Regions from separate parts of the Homo sapiens genome. Here region 1 is linked to region 2. Evidence: fine-mapped expression QTL. A gene starts in region 2. The other region holds a variant in brackets. All regions are shown on one strand. Distances are between the middles of the regions.

Region 1 (2,893 bases), 100 kb after region 2:
GGAGGGAGGAGGGCAGGGGGTAGAGGGAGGAGGGCAGAGGGTGGAGGGAGGAGGGAGGAAAGAGGGTGGAGGGAGGAGGGCAGAAGAAGAGGGCAGAGGGAAGAGGGTAGAAGGAAGAGGGTGGAGGGAGGAGAGAAGAGGTGGAGGGAGGAAACAGGGTGGAGGGAGGAGGGAGAACGCTGGAGGGCAGAGGGAGGAGGGCAGAGGGCGGAGGGAGGAGGTTGGAGGGCGGAGGGAGGAGGTTGGAGGGCGGAGGGAGGAGGTTGGAGGGCGGAGGGGAGGAGGATGCAGGGCAGAGGGAGGAGATTGGAGGGCGGAGGGAGGAGGTTGGAGGGCAGAGGGGAGGAGGTTGCAGGGCAGAGGGAGGAGGTTGGAGGGCGGAGGGAGGAGGTTGGAGGGTGGAGGGAGGAGGTTGGAGGGCGGAGGGAGGAAGCTGGAGGGCGGAAGGAGTCAGTCAACTCAGGCACCTGGTTGGCTTCTCTCGCGCCCAGGCCGCGTGTCAGGTGAGGCAGTCGGTACGCAGAAACTGAGGAAGCGACTGTCCCCAGGTGCCAAGGAGGTTGCTGGCTCAGCCTTCAAAACAAGCAAGGAAGAGTGCAGCTGCATTTGTTGAAAAAAAGCCAGGCTGTATTTTCACCATGTGCCCCCTGCCTTGAAAATGAACTACGGAATGCACAGCGCGTGGGGGGTGGGTGCTGGAAAGGGACAGAACAAGGGTCCGTGGCAACCACAAAGCACCTGCAGGCCAGCGCTTCCCGATGAGCAGAGGCGGGGGCTGGCACCTGGCGCTGGCTGCAGACGGGAAGTCAACGCCACCAAAGCAGAGGACCTCAGCCACCCAGGTTAGCAAGAGGGTAGCAGGGCGCTCAGGAACAGGTGAAGCCATACTGTGGAGAGAAGCTGAATGCTCCTCCCAAGCTTCAGCCCACCCATTAGGAACAAATGCTCTTTAAGTCTGTTTCTTCATGAAACCCAAAGTGGAAGTGCCTGAGCTGTGAATGCGGCCACAGCGTTCATGCCAGCTTGTTCCCAAGCCTAGGAGAAGCAAGCAGCCCCGTGACGGGCACAGGCCACAGTGTGGGCGTGAGCTCACCCCATGTGTAGCCGGGTGCTGGGCCCAGGCCGCTGGGTTTCTGGGGTCGGCAGAGTGGGCCAGGCAACAACCTCACATGCCTACCTCACTGCCACTCGTCCGCCTCGTCCACTCCTGGCATTTGGGATAAACATCCTGTCTCAGACACACCCTTCTCGTGCGCCCATGCCACCTGCTCAGGCCTATGCCGCCCGCCCGTCCTCCCAAGCGTGCACACCCGTCCGCCATCCTTCTCCCGTCTGTGCCCCATGGGACAGAGGCCTCCAGCTGCACCACCACTGCTCGTTAACAGCTGCCATCCACACCGAGGAAGCCTCTTCGAGCCCAGGGAGTGGAGGATGGGGCTCTGCTGTGCACGTGCTCCCTC[G/A]GGCCCTCCCAGCAGTGGTAGATGGGGCTCTGCTCTGTCCTTCTTGGTCATCTTCCTGGGCCTGCAACAAAGCTCAGCCCAGCAGCCAGGCAGCTCCTTACAGAGGCTAACGCCGGGTCTGGTCCCTGGTGACCCCAGGCTGCTGTGAGAACTTGTGACCCCCGAGATCAGAACAGCCTTCGGGTCCCAGAGCTTCCCGCATGATCGTGTGTGGAACAGACCGGGAGATTCCAGCAGATATGGGTTCAACGTTGACCACCAACCTTGACAACCCAAGGGCTGCCTCCCCTGACCATGACAGCCAACTCCTCCTCCACAGTGGCTCTGCCAGGCGCCGAGTCCATAAAGGGCAGCCACTGTTTGGCAAGGAGGGCCGGTCTGCCGGGGGCTCCCAGGCCCTGGGGTCAGGCTGAGAGAGGAAGATGGGTGTGAGGGTGCAGGGGCAGGGGGGCGGGCCCTGCAGGGCAGTGCCTGGCCCGTCCTGCACCCCCAGCCTGGGAACCCCCGGCTTTCTCGCTTGGGCCTCTGGGGAGCCCGCGTCCCCAAATGTAGCCACATCAGAGCACACTTCTCCGGCAGCAACTTCCCAGGCATGTCCGTGGCCTCCTCGGGGGCAGGCGCCCCCTCCTGGACGCTGAGCTGACCTCTCTAGCAGGACTCTGCTCATCTGCACCATTTGCCATTTCCACAGAAACCCTGTCCCCAGAGCCCGGCGGAGAAAAAAACCACAGGGGCCTCTCTGCTCAGGGGAGCCACGCGGAAGAGGCACCCTCGCTCCAGCTGCCAAAGCAACTGAGCCTGCTGCAAACATCTCTGTGAACTCGGACAGGAAACAGTGTTAACCTGTGTTTCCTTCCAAGTCGGCCCTGGCGCATGTGAACTGCTTGCTAATACTGTGTACAATCACGCCGTGCAATGACAGAGAGAACTTTTCTTATTGATGAAGTGGTTTAAAAAGTTACCCTGAGCCTTTTTTCTTTGCTTTTAAGCTGGAAAGATAGCTTGATTACTTATGAAATGAAAAAAAGTTTTCCTAAATGAATGTAACAGTTTAAATCATACTGTTACGAAAACAACACTGTCAAGATTAAAAAGAAATTCTGCTCCTTTTAGTAATAAACAATGTCGTGTGACACTTTGGAACGCTTCTCTCGTTACAAACCAGCGTCTTTACTGAAGGTCCTTCCGCTGCAGAGCTGCGCAATGGATGTGTGGACAGAGCTAGTCGGCACGTGGAGGCTCTCCTGGTTTTCGAGCAGGAAACGTGCTGTGAGCAGGAATCGCGAGTGAGTTCCATGGCGTCCCCGGGTCAGCGCGCGTGCAGGAATCGCGAGTGAGTTCCATGGCGTCCCCGGGTCAGCGCGCGTGGGGTCCTGTCTCGCTGGCTCACCACTGGTGGCCAGGGCATGTCTCCCCCAGCCCTGAGTCTCCGC
Region 2 (2,893 bases):
AGCCCAGAGATATTATTTCATACCCATTTAGATGAACAAAGTAAAATAAATGGAAAGAAAATCAGAAGTTTGAGGACACCAGTGCTGGCCAGGAAATAGAGAACCACAAACCCAGGCACACTGAAGGGTGAGAGGTCAGTTGCTCCAGGTGTTTGGAAAGCAATTTGGCAGCTTCCAATAAAGTCCAAGACGTAGCTGGTCCAATGATGCCACCGCAGACATTTAGAGAACTTCTGTAGAGGGGCACAGGGAGACAGCGCTAGAAAGCTCAATGAATCACTGTAACTGCACAAAACAAAACAAAGCCGACCGCCCTAAATGTTCCTCATTGACAGTGGGTGTATGAGGAGGTGACTGTCCTCCTGGCTGCTGGTACTCTGGGGAGGGAGCTTTGGTGCCCAAGGCAAGAGACTGAGGTTGAACTCTGGGACTCCCAGGAGGGGCTGATTTTTCTGAGAGCCCCGTGAGCCAAGAGTGGGGACCATCCTGATTCTCTCGGACAGGGGAAGATCTGAGCAGGGCTCCTGGCTGATTGGAGGCTCCGAATCGCACCTCTTCTCCTGTCCTAATCTCAGGCTCCAGGCCTGGCTTGCAGTTTCTGGCTCACCGCGCTGCGGTCACCGGCCCACACTCCCAGGAGCGAGGACCCTGGGCAGCCTCCACACCCCCATCAGCCCACTGCACCGGTCTGCTGCCATTTCCCGCACGCATTTCAGGAGGGCTGGGGACGCCGGCTTCTGCCTGAGGATTTATGGTCCAGGAAATGCATTTTAAATGGATCCCAGGATGCTCGGATCCAAGAATCAGACTCTCTCTTGTGCGTGGGAAGAGGGGCGGAGGGTGAGAGTATGTCTGGAGAGAGACCTAGAAACGCCCGAATGGCGGTCCCACTTTGCTCCCCAAAAGCGCGACCGTTCCCCGAGTGGGGGGGCGCTACCTGTTGGCCAGGGCGCAGGGCGCACGGAATTCGGGTGACTTTGCTCCAAGATACACGCGTGTGTCCCGACTCTCACTCAATTTATAGGGGAGAGGGACTCGCCAAATCCCTGTTTTCTGGGGTAAGCCCCCCTCCCCCCACTCTTGGACCCAAGCTGCCCGGAAGGAAGAAGGAAGCATTGTTTGTCACCGGAGAAAACCACCTGTGGTTTGCAAAGGGCCTCAGTCGAGTCAGGGGCAGGCGGGGCAGATCCGAGCCCGGCGGGAGGGGCGAGGCGCGGGGGCGGGCAGGGGCGAGGGTAGGGGCGCTCAGCTGGCAGGTCCTGCTCTGCAGGCCTCACCGCCCAGCTCCCGGGAGGGGGCCGAGGGCGCCCTGAGTGCTGCGCGCCTTCCCATGACGCAGTTCCTGTGCCTTTAAATCCCACTCCCGGAGGGGGCGGGGGCGCCCCGGCTGGACCCCGGTTTCCAGTCCGGCGGGGGCCCCGGGGAAGCCCAGGGCGGGGAGCGCGGGGCTGGGGGCGCGGAGGGCGGGGCGCCCGGGGTCCCCGCCCGCGCGCCGCGCCCTAGCCTGCTGGGCCGCGCCCCTCTTGGGACCGCCGCGCTCCGGGGGCGGGGGCGGGGGCGGGGGCGGGGGGCGGGGGGCGGGGGGCGGGCGGGGGCGCGCGGGCGGGCGGGGTGCGGGCGCGCGCCGCGCGGCCCGAGCGCGCGAGCCGGGCCCGGAGCGCACGCCGCCGCCGCCACCGCCGCCGCCGCCGCCCGAGCCGCCGCATTGCTGCTGCTGCTGCCGCCGCCGCCCCGCGCCCGGCCCGCGGCCCCCAATATGGTGCAGCCGCCAGCGCCGCCGCCCGTGCCGCCGCCGCCGCCCGCGGGCCCCGCCGCCGCCCTCGGGCGCCCGCAGCGCGGCAGCCGCAGGTGGGGGGCCGCGGCCCGGGCCTGAGCTGCCCCCCGCCCGGCCTCGGCGCGGCGCCCTCCCCGCGGGGCTGCCGGCGAGGGGCCCTCTCGCCGCTGAGGTGGAGCCGCGGGCCCCGCCGCCGCCGCTCCTGCCCCCTCCCTCCCTCCTCCCCTCCCCCTCCCCTCCGGTCCTGTCTCCAGCGGGAGCGCGAGACGCTGGTCAGGCTCCGCGGCGCAGCTCGAAAAGGAATAATCGCCCCCGATTGACTGAAATTCCTCCGGAGCCGGCGCCGCGGCCGCCCGCGCCCGAGACCGCGCTCCGGGGCCGCGTCCTCCTCTCCTCCGGAAAACGCTCGCGACCCAGGGCCGCCGGCGGCCGCGACTCTGCTGTGTCGATCGCCTGAGTCCGTTTTCACCGTTTGCGGGATCTGGAACCGAGTTACATGCATGTCCAGTGGGGGCAGGTTTAATTTTGACGACGGAGGGTCCTACTGTGGAGGCTGGGAGGACGGCAAGGCGCACGGCCATGGCGTCTGCACCGGCCCCAAGGGCCAAGGCGAATACACCGGCTCGTGGAGCCACGGCTTCGAGGTGCTGGGCGTCTACACCTGGCCCAGCGGCAACACGTACCAGGGCACCTGGGCGCAGGGCAAGCGCCACGGCATCGGCCTGGAGAGCAAGGGGAAGTGGGTGTACAAGGGCGAGTGGACGCACGGATTCAAGGGGCGCTACGGGGTGCGGGAGTGCGCGGGCAACGGGGCCAAATACGAAGGGACCTGGAGCAACGGGCTGCAGGACGGCTACGGGACCGAGACCTACTCGGACGGAGGTAGGTGCCGCGGGCCGGGCCGGGCCGGGGCGGGAGGGACGTGCTTCCGATCGCGCCCCTTCTGTGGATCTCTGGGGAAGTTGAGCTGCGTCCTCCGGTTGGGCCGTGGGCACCAGGGGCCTTTCCCGGGCTTCCCTGGAAGCCACGGCGGCTCCTGGCTACAGGTTGCCCCGCTGCCTGGTGGGGACAGTGCCCCTGTGCCAGCTGAAGGGTGTTGGGGGCTTTCCAGGGGCAGAG

Direction of the effects. Positions count from the first base shown, and alleles are read on the strand shown. Sizes are in standard deviations (SD) of each study's normalised expression.
With allele G in place of A in region 1, the expression in pancreatic islets of the gene that starts at base 1,636 in region 2 is higher (moderate effect, 0.58 SD a copy in PISA).

The links. PIP is the estimated chance that this variant, and not a neighbour inherited with it, causes the effect.
Region 1: its variant is the best candidate, but not a certain one, in a credible set for the expression of JPH3 in pancreatic islets (PISA, PIP 0.60).

What each region holds. Positions count from the first base shown.
Region 1 is chr16:87,700,461-87,703,353 of GRCh38, forward strand. It overlaps a transcript of KLHDC4 not described here. Among named protein-coding and RNA genes, the nearest start is that of KLHDC4, 64 kb to the right of the region's middle. RefSeq lists enhancers at 1,251-1,300, 2,031-2,280, 2,316-2,893 and a silencer at 1,851-1,910. The variant G/A (reference allele first, on the strand shown) is at 1,461.
Region 2 is chr16:87,600,873-87,603,765 of GRCh38, forward strand. It overlaps JPH3 (junctophilin 3), which reads left to right and starts at 1,636. Exons shown (of 5, transcript NM_020655.4): 1 at 1,636-2,656. The coding sequence starts at 2,275. LOC124903750 (a long non-coding RNA gene) reads right to left here and starts at 1,311. Exons shown (of 2, transcript XR_007065172.1): 1 at 1,140-1,311; 2 at 1-233. RefSeq lists an enhancer at 175-737.